Linked DNA regions of Homo sapiens: regions 2 and 3 are each linked to region 1. The links come from fine-mapping of genetic effects on gene expression. A gene starts in region 1. Each other region holds a variant in brackets. All regions are shown on one strand. Distances are from middle to middle. Region 1 holds the start of CPT2 (carnitine palmitoyltransferase 2). Region 2 overlaps LRP8 (LDL receptor related protein 8). Region 3 overlaps LRP8 (LDL receptor related protein 8).

The links. PIP is the estimated chance that this variant, and not a neighbour inherited with it, causes the effect.
Region 2: its variant is the best candidate, but not a certain one, in a credible set for the expression of CPT2 in whole blood (INTERVAL, PIP 0.61).
Region 3: its variant is the best candidate, but not a certain one, in a credible set for the expression of CPT2 in whole blood (TOPMed, PIP 0.71).

The regions. Positions count from the first base shown.
Region 1 is chr1:53,193,734-53,198,733 of GRCh38, reverse strand. It overlaps CPT2 (carnitine palmitoyltransferase 2), which reads right to left and starts at 1,910. Exons shown (of 5, transcript NM_000098.3): 1 at 1,639-1,910. The coding sequence starts at 1,790. RefSeq lists a silencer at 1,567-1,926.
Region 2 is chr1:53,279,263-53,284,865 of GRCh38, reverse strand. LRP8 (LDL receptor related protein 8) reads left to right here. Exons shown (of 19, transcript NM_004631.5): 4 at 4,151-4,279. Among named protein-coding and RNA genes, the nearest start is that of MAGOH-DT, 43 kb to the right of the region's middle. The variant C/T (reference allele first, on the strand shown) is at 3,412.
Region 3 is chr1:53,240,743-53,246,418 of GRCh38, reverse strand. It overlaps LRP8 (LDL receptor related protein 8), which reads left to right. Exons shown (of 19, transcript NM_004631.5): 19 at 1-4,055. It overlaps MAGOH-DT (MAGOH divergent transcript), which reads right to left. Exons shown (of 3, transcript NR_038953.1): 2 at 4,474-4,572; 3 at 3,636-3,981. Among named protein-coding and RNA genes, the nearest start is that of MAGOH-DT, 5.0 kb to the right of the region's middle. The variant C/A (reference allele first, on the strand shown) is at 3,241.

The DNA.
Region 1 (5,000 bases):
GATGGGGTTGGAATAAATAATCTTGAATATTCTTTCCAGCTTTCCAATTCTAAAGTGCAGAAAATCCCTCTGATCTTAAACCTGGGTGGGGCCCAGGCCTGCCTGAAAGTCAGTGACCATCTGACTCTGAACTTGGCAAGTGAAGACAGGTTCTGTCAGTCCTCACCTTTCACCCATATACTGGCTCAGCTCATACACACAGGTTGACAGGGTGGAAGCATGTACCAGGCTTATGCCACAGGCACAAAGCCCCTTTTTCTTCCTCCCTCCTGCCACGTGTAGATAATCTCATTTTCATGTCTTAGATGTTTGCACAAAATGTAATTTCACAAGAATCACTCGATCCTCCTGAGAGGGTGAGGGTATGTAGTGATGACGTTGGGTTAAGTGGTCCCAGATGCAGAGAAAAACAACCCAGCAGCTCGGGTGAGGCCTGTGACACAATGTTCCACACATGGGGAAGAAGCCTGGCCTCTAGCTCTTGGAGTGTGGGGAATCCCTGAGGGCAGTTTGGTGAGAAATAAGGTGAGAAGGGTCTTTGAGACAAATTTTGAACTTGGCTCCAGGAACTGAGTTACTCACTCAGTAAGTTAGAAGTTAGTTTAGGTTTGGTTTAGAGGGTGAAGAAAATTTCTAATATTGAAGAAGGAGATCTGGCAACTCAGACGAAAGCGGAGTTCGAAGGCTGGAAGAACTGGAAGCTGGATTTAAGAAAGTACTGGGGGAGGGAAGGGGAAGAGGATTTACTAGGGCTCTTTTCAGAGGGGAAGTCGATTCTGGGTGAAGTGTTTCGAAGGCAGGGTAGCCAGTGGTGAGGAGGAGAAGAGAAATTTGGGTGGACCCTGGATCTGAGTATGATGGAGTGTGGATGGGGTACTGAGGGTGGTGTCTAGAATTCTGTGAGGGTGAGCTGCACTTACAAGGGGTACTGTGGGTGAGGAAGGATATTTTGAGGGGAGGAACCTGTTGAGGAGGGCTTGGAGAGAGTGAAAGGTTTCCGGGTGAACACTGGATTTAGGAGATTAAAGATTTAAAAACATGGGGGAGGGTCAGTTGAGGACAAGGGTGAACACTTCAGGGCTGTGCTTGTGGGGGCTCATGGGGGGTGAAAGAACAGAGTACTGGAGAAATGGGAGGTGGGGCTGAGGGTCCTGAGTGACAGGGGTGAAGGCGGTGCTGGGAGAAGTTAAGGAATGGTAACCATGATGTATTAGGAATCAGCCTACCCATATTCCGGGTAGGAATGTGAGGCAGTCATTAAAGTACTTCAGGAGACACCATAGTCGAGGGATTACAGCGGCGCTGGAAATATGCAGGTCTGGCATTTTTCAGGGAGAAGAGGACTCAGGATAGCTGGCTGGAAGTTAGGTTAAAGGAGAGGGAATCTGAGAAGCGTTCAAGATGGAGAATCTGAGATAGCATCGAGGGGTTCTGGAAGAGAATTTGAGGGTTCTGAGGTTCCTGTGCTAGGAGATTGTGAAAAGTCCCAAGACTTCCAGATTAGGGGCTGTGGCAGCCTCCATGGTAGGGGCTTGGGGGCGGAAACGGGTTCACTAGAGGAGTCATGAGTGACTGCAGTCAGGTTGGGGCCGATCCTGGGACGGCGGCGGGCGGCGGGGACCCGGAGGCCAGGCTCACCTGGGCAGGCTGTCCTGGTAGTGCATGGTGGGCACGATGCTGCGCTGCAGGTACTGGCCGGGCCCGGAGCCGGCGCTGAGGGGCCGACTGGGGGCTCCCGGACCAACCGCGGGGCCCCGGGGCCAGGCGCGCAGCAGCAGGCGGGGCACCATCGTCCCGGGAGCCTGCGGCGGCGAGAACGCGGCAAGTGGGGAGTTCTGGAGTCTAAACACAAGGCCGCCGCCGCCGTTAGCGCCCAAGACACTGCGTCAGGACTCCTGAGGCACTTCTCCGCCCGCAGGCCACTTCCGGCCCCTGTAAGGCCATCGGCTCCGCCCCGGACTGGCTCCTTCCGGGCAGGGGCCGCTCACTGACAGGCCCCGCCCACTAGTAGGCCCCGCCCGGAAGGGGGCCCCAGCCTCCGCGCTGCTCGTCTCCCTTCCCTTCCCTAGGAGGCGGGAAACCGAGCGCCGCAGCCGCTCCTTCCCCTTTTTTGGAGCAAGACAGAAACTGGAGTTGGAAAAAAAAAAGAAAAGCTAAGAAACGTGATTGGAATCTGATAACCCAAAATTTGATCCAGGCTCCATCCTTGCGAGACTGTGGACTAAATTTTAAACCTCTATTTCCTCACCTAAGAAGTAGATAGATCGTAATGATTCAAAGTACCTCCCAAAATTCTAGATATGAGATAAAGATAACATGTTATGCACAGTGCATGGTGCTTAATAGGAAAGCAGTAAACGGTAACGGATGTTACTGTTGTTAGTAATCCGTGCTGAAGGTCATTGACATATAATGACCCTGAACCCTGCACAGCTACTGCCCTGCCAGCTCACCTGAGTGGATGGATATTAGAAAGGATTTGTGCAGGAGTTGGAAACCTGGAGTTTCCCGCTGGCCACCACTTCAGTGCAGAAAGCCCCTTCCGAGCGGAATCCCCTCTGCCTGAACATCCATTCTTGGCTTGAGCATTTCCAAAAACAAGAAGCTCACTGCTAAGAGGAAAGAAACCCTTGTCCTCCGGCTCTAGGAAGTCTTCCGTGTTCAGTCTATTGGAAGAGGCTTCCTGTCACCACAGACCACCTCCAAGATTCCTTCCAACTCCTGACTCTAAGATTCCGCTACTTGAACATAGATCTATCATCCCTCATCCATCACAAAACAGCTGCAGAACAGCCCACCACGCCCCAATCCCTGATCTTAGAAGTAGCTGCAGGATTAAGTAGGCTCTACTCCCATTTTACAGAAGAAGACAGGGAGTTACCAAAAGACACACAATTATGCTGCCTAGCTTGAGGCACAACAGAATTCCATTTTGGGAACAGAACTGCCCTTTAGCCGTTTGGGGCAGCCAAGTACATTCTGTCTGTTCCATAATTGGCTAAGCAGAGCCAGAAGCTGGAGCACACCAGAAAGAGTACTGGATTGGGAGTCAGGAGACCGGACTTTTAGTTTCAGCTCTTTGTTATCTAGTTAGGTGACCTCGGATTGAACAGGAAGATCACTAACCAGCTCTGGCACTCATTCAGTGGTGATCACAAATGCTTAACCCATTTCCCGTTTAGAAAAAAACAGCGCAGCTTGCTGCCAGCTCTTATTTCTTAGGGCAAATGGGAAATGGCTTAAGAACTAAGCATGAAATTCAGAAACACTGAATATCGAATCCTCCTCTCTTGAGGGGAGAAAAGGCCCAACTGGCCCAACTCCAAAACATCGGTGCCATTTGCCTGTAGTGTATAAGGCCAGAGGGAGAATATAAAACTCTTTCTGAAAATGAGCCATCTCCTCTAAATCCTGATCATTTTCAGAGCCTTGATACCCGAGGCAAATATCGAGATCTGTGTAGTGCTAAGGGGATCAGAGGACCAGGAAGAAATAGTGGGCCCAGTAGAAAAGCAGCGGCTCTATTCTAGAGACAGAGGGCCAAAAGATTGAGCCCATCCAATCTAACAGCCAAAAGAGGGACGTGAACACCTTTGGTGAGTGCATGGCCAATGGGAGCAACTCTAAGCCTTTAGGCTGGTGTCCAAGGCCTTCTGAATTCTGACCCCTACCTACTTCTCCAGCTCCCATCATGTCACCCCAAAATACTCTATGCCAGGGGTGTCCAATCTTTTGACTTCCCTGAGCCACACTGGAAGAAGAATTGTCTTGGGCCACACATAAAATACACTAATACTAATGATAGCTAATAAGCAAAAACAAAACAAAATTGTAAAAATATCTCATATTTTAATAAAGTTTACTAATTTGTGTTGGCCTCATTCAAAGCCATCCTGAGCTGTGGGTTGGACAAGCTTGCTCTATGCTGTAGTAACACTGAACCACTTCTCATTCCCATCCTTTTCCTTACTCTGCGACTTATTTATTTATTTATTTTAGCTGTCTCTGCTGCCTGGAATGTTCTTTCCATGCATCTCTGCCTAGTAAACTCTTACTTGTCCTTCAAACCCTATTTCAAAACTCACCTCTTTGAAGTCTTCCTCAATCCTCATCCTTCTTCCTCACTGCAAGAATGAATCCCTCCCACTGTGATTTTACAGCACTTTTTACATTCATTTACAGTTATGTACATGAAACACAACTGTATTAGGGCTTTTAAAATAATCAGCTATTTAATTACCAATTCATCTCTCACAATAAATTTTGAGGTCTTTGGGCAGGGACCTTGTTTCCACTGTGTGTCCACTGTGTCTAGCACAGGCCTACTGTGGGGAGGTGCTTTGCTTCCTTTTCCTGGGGATGGCCCTGGGGTCTGGATCACATTAAGAATAACCATGAGCTGGTAGTCCAAAAAGTCCATATATTGCTGTGTAAGGGTCAAGAAAGTTCCTCTACTTAGAGAAAGATCCTGAAGAATACATTGTTTCTATTGAACTAATCCCCAGAGTTCTGCTCTGTTTTGAATTAACTATGAAAAAGCAGTACATGATGGCCAGGTTAAAGTCATATTCATCTTCAAAATCAAAGTTCTGAAAAACAATGAACTTTAACTGGCTAGCAGTAGAGTTCACATTTCAACAAAAAAGAGGTCCAGTTGGGTAAGTATGACCAAAGAAAACAAATGTGACCACCCAAATATTCAAAGAAATGTCAGGAACTAGTACCTAGAGTTGGCCTGGCAGTCCCAAGTTCTCAGGTTCTATTGGAGCTTACCTGGACTAAACAGTGCTTGAAATGAGGAAATTCATAGGCAAGACCTTGAAAAGCCCTGCCTATTTAATGGGATTTGTTAAAATGAACTCTAACCCTTTTATAAATATTGAGTATGTGAGAAAGTATTTAAATGCAAAAAAGTGAAACCAGAGTATTAAAAAAATGCTCTCTCTGCCCCATAAAGGAACTTTTAAAACATACCTGTGGACACATTAGATATTGTAACT
Region 2 (5,603 bases), 86 kb before region 1:
ACTCCAAGGGATGTTCATCAGTGTGACCTCTGAGATCTCTCAAGTCCTGGCATTCCAAGAGCCTTGGCTCTTTGAGGGTGGAGGGCTGTTATCAGGCACTGCTGAATCCTTGAGAACCTATAATTAGAGCTGTCTATTTAGGGACACAGCAAATGTCTTATTAATTATAAAGAAAGGAAGCAGACAGATTGTTTAATCATTGTCCTTGCTGAAAGGTTATGCAATTAACTATATAAATATTCATTAAAAGTTCAAGCAGCCGCTTGCTGCACTGGGGTCTGTAGAACCTGGAGGTCCACCCTGGAGGTGGAGCGTACAGCCAAGGGCCCTTTCTGTCACCTGGGCTTTTGTGAGGAGAGTTTGGGGATGGTTCTGGAGCATGCAGGATTTGATGGAAGGGCAAGGCTCTAGTCATAGGAACCCAGGCTCGGTCTCTCGCCTGCTGTGCATCTTTGGGCTAGTTACTTGGTCTCTCTGAGCCTCAGTTTCCTCATCTATAAAATGGAGTGCTTACGTGCAGGACTGCTGCCCTGCTGTAGTGCAGTAAGTGGCCCAGGTATGTAGTAAGTAAGTGGCCCAGGTATGTAGTAAGTAAGTGGCCCGGGTATGTAGTAAGTAAGTGGCCCGGGTATGTAGTAGGTAAGTGGCCCGGGTATGTAGTAGGTAAGTAAGCGGCCCGGGTATGTAGTAGGTAAGTAAGCGGCCCGGGTATGTAGTAGGTAAGTAAGCGGCCCGGGTATGTAGTAGGTAAGTAAGCGGCCCGGGTATGTAGTAGGTAAGTAAGCGGCCCGGGTATGTAGTAGGTAAGTAAGCGGCCCGGGTATGTAGTAGGTAAGTAAGCGGCCCGGGTATGTAGTAGGTAAGTAAGCGGCCCGGGTATGTAGTAGGTAAGTAAGCGGCCCGGGTATGTAGTAGGTAAGTAAGCGGCCCGGGTATGTAGTAGGTAAGTAAGCGGCCCGGGTATGTAGTAGGTAAGTAAGCGGCCCGGGTATGTAGTAGGTAAGTAAGCGGCCCGGGTATGTAGTAGGTAAGTAAGCGGCCCGGGTATGTAGTAGGTAAGTAAGCGGCCCGGGTATGTAGTAGGTAAGTAAGCGGCCCGGGTATGTAGTAGGTAAGGCCCGGGTATGTAGTAAGTAAGTGGCCCGGGTATGTAGTAAGTAAGTAAGTGGCCCGGGTATGTAGTAAGTAAGTGGCCCGGGTATGTAGTAAGTAAGTGGCCCGGGTATGTAGTAAGTAAGTAAGTGGCCCGGGTATGTAGTAAGTAAGTGGCCCGGGTATGTAGTAAGTAAGTGGCCCGGGTATGTAGTAAGTAAGTAAGTGGCCCGGGTATGTAGTAAGTAAGTGGCCCGGGTATGTAGTAAGTAAGTAAGTGGCCCGGGTATGTAGTAAGTAAGTGGCCCGGGTATGTAGTAAGTAAGTGGCCCGGGTATGTAGTAAGTAAGTGGCCCGGGTATGCCACTTATGTGATGACCTTTGTGAATGGCACCCCCGGAATTTGCACTGGCAGCCCGCAAGGCCTGCTTACCTTACAACAGACATTTGTTGCTCACAGTTCTGGAGGGTAGGAAGTCCAAGATCAAGGCACCGGCAGTTTCCGTGTCTGGTGAGGGCCCGTTCCTCATAGACTGCACCTCCTTGCTTCATCCTCACGTGGTGGAAGGGGCAAGGAGGCTCCCCCTGACCTCTTTTGTAAGAGTACTGATCTCATTAAAGAGAGCTGTACTGTTATGGCTTAATCACCTCCTAAAGGCCTCACCTCTTAATGCTATCACATTGAGGATTAAGTTCCAACATGGATTTTCAGGGGATACCAACGTTCAGACCATGGCAGAATGAAATGAAAAAATATAAAATTTTCAGCACAGAGCAGCCTGACACAACTTAGGTGTTCAAAAACTGGGACTCCCCTCCCCCTCCCTTGAGAGGTTCTGTTTCCTGAGGCCTGGCTTAGGGATAAGTAGTTGCTTTGACCTTCCATCCCATTGCTCTCTTAGGGGCTTGCAAGTGTATGGAACATCTGTATCACTTTTATCGTAGTGAATTGAAAAGAGATGAAACATCCCTTGTCTTCTATGCTTGCAGAATGTTAACCAACCCAGGGGTTCCCAAATAGAGGTGCATGGGAATCCCCTGGGTTTTGGTGGGGAGTTACTAAAATGCAGATCCCTAGGCTCTGCCCTAGAAGTCTAGATTCAGTCAGTATGAGCTGAGGCTCAGGAACCTGCACTTTGAGTAGCTCCCTCACCCCCCACCCTTTGATGAGAGGACCCCAGCAAAGCACTGGTCAGCTTCAGCTTCCTGTGTTCCAGTGGGGCCCAGAGGGGAGGTGCTTACCTGGGGTCCTGCAGTGTTGGTGATAGAGGTACCCTGGAAGGACCCCATCTCCCAACTCCCAGTTTCCCTTCACCACCCTGCACTGCAGCCCCAAGGTGGCCTTATATAAAAGGCCTTTGAGGGTTAGTACTTTCCAGAGCTCAACCTGACAGTTATTTGCTCATCCATCCCACAAGTCTGCCAATCCTCGAGCAAGGGAAATTTCTGTGAAATGAATACCAGGAATCCTGTATTCCCAAGGGATTGCCCTGTACTCATGAAATGCATTCCTAGGGATAACGTTGGGGACCTCACTTTCAGGGGCCTAAGATGCTCTTCTCCCATGGCAGTAGTGGTGTCCAGGGACCTTGACTCAGATACCTGCTCCCCTCCCCAACTCATCTGTGCCCTTTTCTGTATCCCTTGTGGTCTCTCATCCCAGCTATAGAAATGGGAAGAGGAGAAACTGGTCTGAGATCAGAGAGCAAAATGGAGGGCGAAGCATGAGTAGCCCACTGCCTCCGGGGAGAAATGGATTGTGCTGAGTCTCCGGCATCAGACACAGCTGACTTTCAGTCAATCCTAACACTGCTCTTTATCAGCTCTGTGACCAGAACTTAGTGCCTACCACCATGTTTGTCACACAGCAGTGCTCAAATACTCAGTGAATAAGCAAAATTCAGAGTCATCTGGTATGTGTGGATAATCATAGTAGGTAACATTTAGTGAGCACTGGGCTGGGTGTTCTTCTAGGTGCTTGCTTTACAGACATTAACTTAGTCATCATAACAATCCTATGAGAGATAGTATTATCCCCACTTTATTGGCACAGAGATAAGGATTGTTGGCCAAGGTCACATAGTCAGTGAGTGATTGAAGTAGGATTTGAACCCAGGCAGCCAGGCTCCAGAGCCCATGTTCTCCGCCTCTATGCTGGAGGCCAGCACATAATCCTCTCACCCTGCTGGCTTATTGTGAAAATTAGATGGAAGTGTCTAGCACCATGCCTGGCACATCCTAGAGACCACGGAGGTCGGGCCTCCTGCACACCCTGGAAGGCTGAAGGGAGCCAACCACGGAGGTCTGAGATGCATCTGC[C/T]TTGGCTGAGCCTGTCACATGGGTCCAGCAGAAACTCATGATAAGAGCTGTCCCCAGCCTTGAATAGGGTTCTCATTCTTCCTTCCAAATTGAGATTCAACCCTGGGGCTTCAGGCCCCTGATTGAGTCAGCCTCTGATTGCGGCTGCAGTAATTATAGCTATGCAGTCCCGCTGGGCCCTGCCATGCAGCAGCTGCTCTCAGCAGCAGGATCAGCACCATCACTCGGGGAGGGGGCTTAGAGGCGGGCCGATTGGAGCCGTTGGGGCCTTGGTGAGCCCTCCAAATTTACAGGTTCCAATCATGGAGTCACTGATCTGGAAGGCAAACTGAGGCCCAGCTGGGGCATATCTCACCTAAGGGCACACAGCTGGGAAATGGCAGAGAAGAGTGCAGGGCATGGTGGCTCCATGTTGCCAGAACTTAAAGTGGAGGTTTGGAGGGATGGGAGGTGTGGCCAGGAGGGGCAGGCAGAAGTCAATGGATCAAAGGGACTTGAGGGCCAGGGACCAGGGGGCCATGAAAGATGTTATGTAGAGAAGGGTCAGATTTAGGATTTGAAAATTCCTGGCACAGACAGAGGCTTCTTCTCAGCTGATGAAACTGAGACATGGGCCAGAAGAGCCCTGATGGACTCCTAGGGCCTTGGACCAGATGGCTGGAACAGGGTGGTAGGACTGGTTGGCACCATGCCCTGTGTCCCCCTTGGCTAAGCTATGCATGGACGTCTGTCTCCACAGCCAAGCAGGTGTGTCCTGCAGAGAAGCTGAGCTGTGGACCCACCAGCCACAAGTGTGTACCTGCCTCGTGGCGCTGCGACGGGGAGAAGGACTGCGAGGGTGGAGCGGATGAGGCCGGCTGTGCTACCTGTGAGTCTGGGGTCAGATCTCCAGGGTCTGCCAAGCATGGTCAGGCAGCCTCAGGGAGTGGCAGCCACTTCTGGGGAGGGGGCCCAGTTCCCCGTGGGGCTTGGTGGTGGAGAGGAAAGGATAACGATCAGGACACTAGTAATGGCTAGATTCTATGGAGACATGGTCTTCTTTCATCTTCACAAGCACCTCATGAGCAGCCATTATCATCCCCATTTTATAGGTGAGGAAACTGAGGCTCAGACAAGGGAGGAAAAGTACCCAAGGCTGAGTGATGAAACCAAGATTCAGATTCAGGACTGGACAGCAAAGCCCATGAGCTTTTGTTACCATGTCTGACATCTGCTCATCCATCCCACAAGTCTGCCAATCTTGGAGCAAGGGCAGGGGGACCAGGGAGGGTGCTGCGTGGAGAAATGGCGGTGGTCTGAGCCAGGGCGCCAGCAATGCTGGGGGGAGGGGGACGGATTCCTGAGGTGTCAAGGACGACTGTTGCTGAAATCTCAGATTCAAGCACAGACGTCACAGGGCAGAGAAGACATTCTCAGCAGCCTCGGCAGGGACAGATGGAAGTGGTCACTGGGACAGTTCCACATCACTGAGCTTCAAACACAGGATTATCTCCTTCCCAGGGAGCAGGCCAGCAGGGCCTGGGCCATTGGGGAGCATGGCCAGGCCTCACTTTTTCAATTCGAGGGGCACCTACTGTGTGCCAGGCCTGAAGCCAGGCTCTGAAAGGGACAGTGAGGTGAATCCTACACAGTCTTCCCTCTGGGAACACATGATTAGTGGGGGAGACAGACTGGCTGTCGCTACTAGGCTGTGCGGCTGGGCTGAAATACGGGCGGTCACCCTGGAGGGCTTGCCAGGCACTTGCCCATCACTGCTGCCTACTCCCCTCTGCCAGCCTCTATATTTGCATCCTATCCATCTTTCCTGGCCCAGGGAAAATGCCATCTCCTCCAGAGGTGTCTGAGTCGTCACACTTTAAGATTCTAAGTCTGGAATTTGATGTGTCTGAAGCAGGAAGCATCTGGGTATGGAGGGAGATCCTGGCTGGGAACAGCAGTTTCAAAGTCCCAGTGATGGCACTGGCTCACTTCCTCAGCTGTGATAATTTTGCTGGGACTCACTGGCCAATGAGAATCCTCTTTCCTCTTTACCAAGCCCCATAATCAGATGATTCCTCCAATATGAAGGCCGCTACTGCAAGGGATGGGAGTCTCTCCAACTAGGGCATGTTGGAATAGGAACATTCCCCATTAATTATGGGAGAGAGAGGTGTCAGAAGGTCTTACTGGGCTTCTATGCTATAGCTTCCACC
Region 3 (5,676 bases), 47 kb before region 1:
TATGTGTGTGTTTATATGTGTATGTGTGTGACAGAAAAATCTGTAGAGAAGAGGCACATCTATGGCTACTGTTCAAATACATAAAGATAAATTTATTTTCACACAGTCCACAAGGGGTATATCTTGTAGTTTTCAGAAAAGCCTTTGGAAATCTGGATCAGAAAATAGATACCATGGTTTGTGCAATTATGTAGTAAAAAAGGCAAATCTTTTCACCTCTGGCTATTCCTGAGACCCCAGGAAGTCAGGAAAAGCCTTTCAGCTCACCCATGGCTGCTGTGACTCCTACCAGGGCTTTCTTGGCTTTGGCGAAGGTCAGTGTACAGACATTCCATGGTACCAGAGTGCTCAGAAACTCAAGATAGGATATGCCTCACCCTCAGCTACTCCTTGTTTTAAAGTTCAGCTCTTTGAGTAACTTCTTCAATTTCTTTCAGGACACTTGGGTTGAATTCAGTAAGTTTCCTCTGAAGCACCCTGAAGGGTGCCATCCTTACAGAGCTAAGTGGAGACGTTTCCAGATCAGCCCAAGTTTACTATAGAGACTGGCCCAGGCACTGAATGTCTAGGACATGCTGTGGATGAAGATAAAGATGGTGGAATAGGTTTTATCACATCTCTTATTTCTCTTTTCCCCTTACTCTCTACCATTTCCTTTATGTGGGGAAACATTTTAAGGTAATAAATAGGTTACTTACCATCATATGTTCATATAGATGAAACTAATTTTTGGCTTAAGTCAGAACAACTGGCCAAAATTGAAGTCATATTTGAGGGGGGAAATGGCATACGCAATATTATATTATATTGGATATTTATGTTCACACAGGAATTTGGTTTACTGCTTTGTAAATAAAAGGAAAAACTCCGGGTATATGTATAGATGTTCTTCATTATAGACATCTTCTTTGCTTTTCTTGGCCTTGGGGGAGGAAGGGAGAAGTGCTCTTTTCTACTTGTGGGGTCTCCCATTGGAAACATAATCCTATAGTCCCAGAAGGATTCAGTCCCCAGTGGCTTTCCCATCCAAAGAGAAAGAGTTTGAGTTTCTTAACTCTGCTGTTCTGCCACTTACTCCCACTAGACAACCAGGGACAAGGTGCAACATGGAAGTGTTTGACTTAAGTAGGAGCAGAGGAGCTGCATCTAATCTCATCATACCTGGAACTTGACACACTTAAGCAAATGCCTTCCCATCCCTACCTGCCAGATGCCCCCAACTCAATGAAGTTGGATGTCTCACCAGCTTGATACCCTTTGAATTTTCAGTCAGACATTCTGGAGTTCTAGCATCCTGTACCTAGGACCTTCCTCTGTGTCACTCTTGGCCTCCTAAACTCTAAGAAAATAACTATATTCTGGAGCTTGGGCAGTGTGTTTTGCATAATCCAGCAATCTCCTCATGACATGCATGTGTTGATAGTCCTGAAACATTCATTGAGAGGGTAAATGCAGTTGACCTAGAATGACCAATACCAAACAGAATTTTAAGAACAGGTGGCCAACTCCTATGGAGCTTACTCACATATTACTATTCTTTTAAGAACGGAAAGTAAAATTATTTTTGACTGAAGAAAAATGATGACAGTGAAAAACATGGAAATGTACTCAAAACAAGTGACTTTTTCTGTAACCTTCCAAAGAAACTGAATTTTCCAAGGAATTAAATGATAACAGTGGCTAAGGCATAGTTTCTAAACTTTCAGTAAGATCCTGGCATTCACAGAAAAAAATGATGAATGGGGTCTGGACATACAGCCTGAGATCTCAAAATGACAATGAAATTCACAACTTTTTCTCAGAGACATTCATGTTTCCTGCATATGCTACAACTGCAGTTTGAAAGAGGCAGCAATGGGAGCAACCCTTTACAAGAAACAAATTGTGATATATTCATGTGTTGGACGGCAGTAAATAAGATGAAACCTGAGGAGTCAGATCCACCTTCCCCCATTCATAGAGGCTTTTCAGCCTCATTTTGAGGTACAGTTACATATCTTTTGCCTTTTGCCCCCGTGCATAGCTATCTACAGCCAATCACAGATCACAGAGTCACTGGACTATAGAGCTGGAAGGAAGCTCAGAGACAATGCCAAGGGGGCAGAAAATTTATCAGAAGCCAGTCCCAGTGCGTTTCCTCCATTTCCTTCTGCAGGAAGACTATTTTGGGCTGCCTGAACATTGTATCAAACCTGCTACCTATACTATGGTCTACCTTTCCTCCAGTGGAATTACAAAGGCACTAACTGAAATGCCTTCTAGAAACAGAGAAAACGAAACTGTACTTATTTACTCTTGATACACAGATTATTTATAAAACAGATTGAAGTAACCTGTTAACTGGCAAAAAGAGAATGAGATCGGATTTAAATGTATGGCAGTAAGTCCTATTGATCCCTCCAGTTATCTCAGTATGACTGCAGTATATTCATTCACTAAAACCACTCACTAGATACCAACTACACACCTGGCACTGCAGATGTAAAGGTCAGTCACACATGTTCTGACTTTACAGAGTTCACAGTAGCAGTGGAGGATGATATATGTGGAAACAAAAAAGGCATTGATTCTATTCAGAGCACTGTTAGGGCTCAAAGGAGAGAGGGGTCTTTCCACCTAAGAAATGAGGAATAGGGTCATCATAGAAGTGACCTTAAGTCTTAAAAATTAAGAAGGGGATTCCAAGCTGCTTCAGACAGAGACACATCGAGCTAAAACACAGAGGTATGAAAGAGCACAGGGACTTTAGGAATTGCACAGTTCATTCTAACAGGAACAAAAGGCTCAAGGGGGGCAAGAAATGAGGCTGTATGGAAAGAGATTCAATGTAAGCACTTTATAAAATAGATTAATTTCTGATTCAATGAAGCATTTCTTGATCATTGTGTACAAGGCACTACATGCATCATGGAAAATTCATTAGGATGCATTGCCAGCACTTTGCAGAACTGATATTATTCAGCCTCAAGCTTTCCAGTGGCCAAAGGGAAATGCTGACTGCTTTTCATATATTTGAGTCAAAGATTTTTTATATGGTCAATGAAGACTAATATAAGGGCAGTGGGATTTTCACAGATGCATGCCATGTTGTCGAGAGCCTCTTAGATTTTCTCAACTGTGAGAAAGAAAAACGAAAATGTTGAAGACGTTGAGTCTGGAGAGGGGATACTAATCACTGTCCAGTTGGGCACTGGTGGGAATGGGGAAATGGCACAGGAATGCAAGCCTCTCCACCCTACC[C/A]CCCGAACTCCAGCCATACACTCATCGTTTCACAAAATATAAATGAGTTAGCATTAAATGTTTCAGAGTAAATAATTCCTTTTCCCGAAATGCATGAAGATAGAGTAACAGACTTCTCACACTGTATTTTTAGGGTATGGAGAATTTAGAAGGTTAAAGAATTACTGCTTCAATTTTTCAGTTAAAAAAAAATCAGGAAGCTCTGTTCATTCAGGCTATGCACCATGTGCACAGTCAAGAATTAGCAGAAACCCTCTGCATTTACAAACACTTTGTGCTATAAAAAAGTAATTTTTAAAAAGCCACGTGTGTGTGTGTGTATATATATATATATATATATATTTAAAGCCAAGGTTTTGATACTTTTTTACAAAAACTACAAGAGAAAACAAATATACCTGTCCAAACCATATACTTTTAAAAGAGCATTTTTTTTTCCATACAAGCTGTTGTTAATTTGGGGGTAAAGTGCTGATTTGCAAACTTCATCAAATTGTTCCCAAGTGGATTCTCCTTGTTTGTCTCCCCCTACCAACCCCAAAGTTACCATATTTGATGTAAGAATCAGGCATGTTAGAATGTTGTGTCACACTAACTGATTCTGCTCTTTTTGTCTTGTCATTCAAGTTCCGTTAGCTTCTGTACGCGGTGCCCTTTGCAGTCTGGTGTCTCTTCCAGAGGCGAGGGGGCTGAGGATGGGGTGCTGCATCTCACTAGCTATACTGGCATCATCTTGGTAAACTGAAAACCAAATGTGGACATTTGTAAAATCAGTGCACTGTTTCTAGAGAGAGATTAAATTCATTTAAAAAAAATCTTTTAAGTTTTGTTTCATTGTAATACTTTAATGAGGGGGAGTGAACTATTACTGAGTCCCTAATGTGTACCAGTATTCTATATAAATTATCCCAATCTTTGTCAACAATTCGGTGAGATAAATACTATCAATACTATCCACTCCCATTTTATAGATGAGAAAATGGGCAAAGTAACTGCCCAAAGTCACAAGGTTATTTTTAGTGCCCCCAAAGAGCAATTGTACATGTAGCATTCTCTGCCTAAATTTTCCTTCTCTGCCTCCACATGACTAACTCCTATTTGTCCTTGAGTACTCCACTTAGGTAATGCCTCCTCCAGGAAGCCTTCCCTTTTCTCTAAGACTAGGTTAGATAACTCACCTCTGTACTTCGATAACAATTTTTGCCTACTTGCATCCCAATACTTCTGCCTTACCATTCATTCCCATGCCATTGGGGTTGCTTTTGCCAAGGTCATCCAGGACCTCCTCGATTATAAATCTGGTAAACATTTTCAGTCTTGCTCTTCCTTGACCTGGAAGCAGTAGTTAACACTGTTAGCCACTCTTTTCTTGGCATATTCTTATTTTGGCTTCCATGATAACATTTCATGTTTTTTCTCCTATCTCTCTGGCCACATCTTAGTATCCTTTGCCTACCCCTTAAATTATGGTATTCCATCTCAAATCCATCCACTTTTCTATCTCCATTACTTTTTTTTTTTTTTTTTTTTAAGAGACAGGGTCGTACTCTGTTACCCAGGCTGGAGTACAGTGGTAGGATCATAGCTCATTGCAACCTCCGCCTCCTGGGCTCAAGCAATTCTCCTGTCTCAGCCTCCCGAGTAGCTGGGGCTACAGGTGCACGCCACCCTGCCCAGCTAATAGATTACTTAAACTACTTATCTGAATGTCATACTTCTAGTCTTTTCATTTTCCAATCTAACCTACAAGACTGCAGCCAAAGTGTCTTTCTAAAGTACCATAGATGTATCACCACCACTTCTTTCCACTTTCCTGCTTAAAGCTCTTCAACTGCTTTGCTGGCACAAAAATCCAATATTCTTGGGTTTGCCCAAACTCTTTTAATATGGCTTATAAAACCCTTCATGATTTGGCTTCTGCCCTGTCTCCAGCTTCATCACTCACTACTCTATATTCTAATCACACAGTTCTGGGCCTCCGTCTGGAACATTTCCTTCAGGAACATTTCCCTAAGGACCCTGCACTGGATTAGGAGTCACCTCATGTGCTTCCATAGTCCTCTGTGCTTCCTTTATTGGTAATCTTATCCTTACATTGTAATTGCTTGTATGCTCCTTAACTGCCTCCTCTGCAAGCTCTGTGAACAACTGTCTTGCTCAACATTGTATCCTCTCTGCACATGACACTCAGTGGATGCTCAAATAAATGATGCTGAATGCAGGCACTGCAGACACACAGACCATGCTCTTTCAGTTACACCATGTCTCATATCCAGAAACCTGGATTACTTCACAGCCTGACTGGAGTTGTGTGTCCTTTAAATTTCTCAACACTTTTGTTATTTGCCACATCTGAAGATCCCCAGATTCACTTATGATTTTTATAATTTTACTCCTGGAAAATAACCTTGTAGCAATTGCTTAATCCCTCTACAT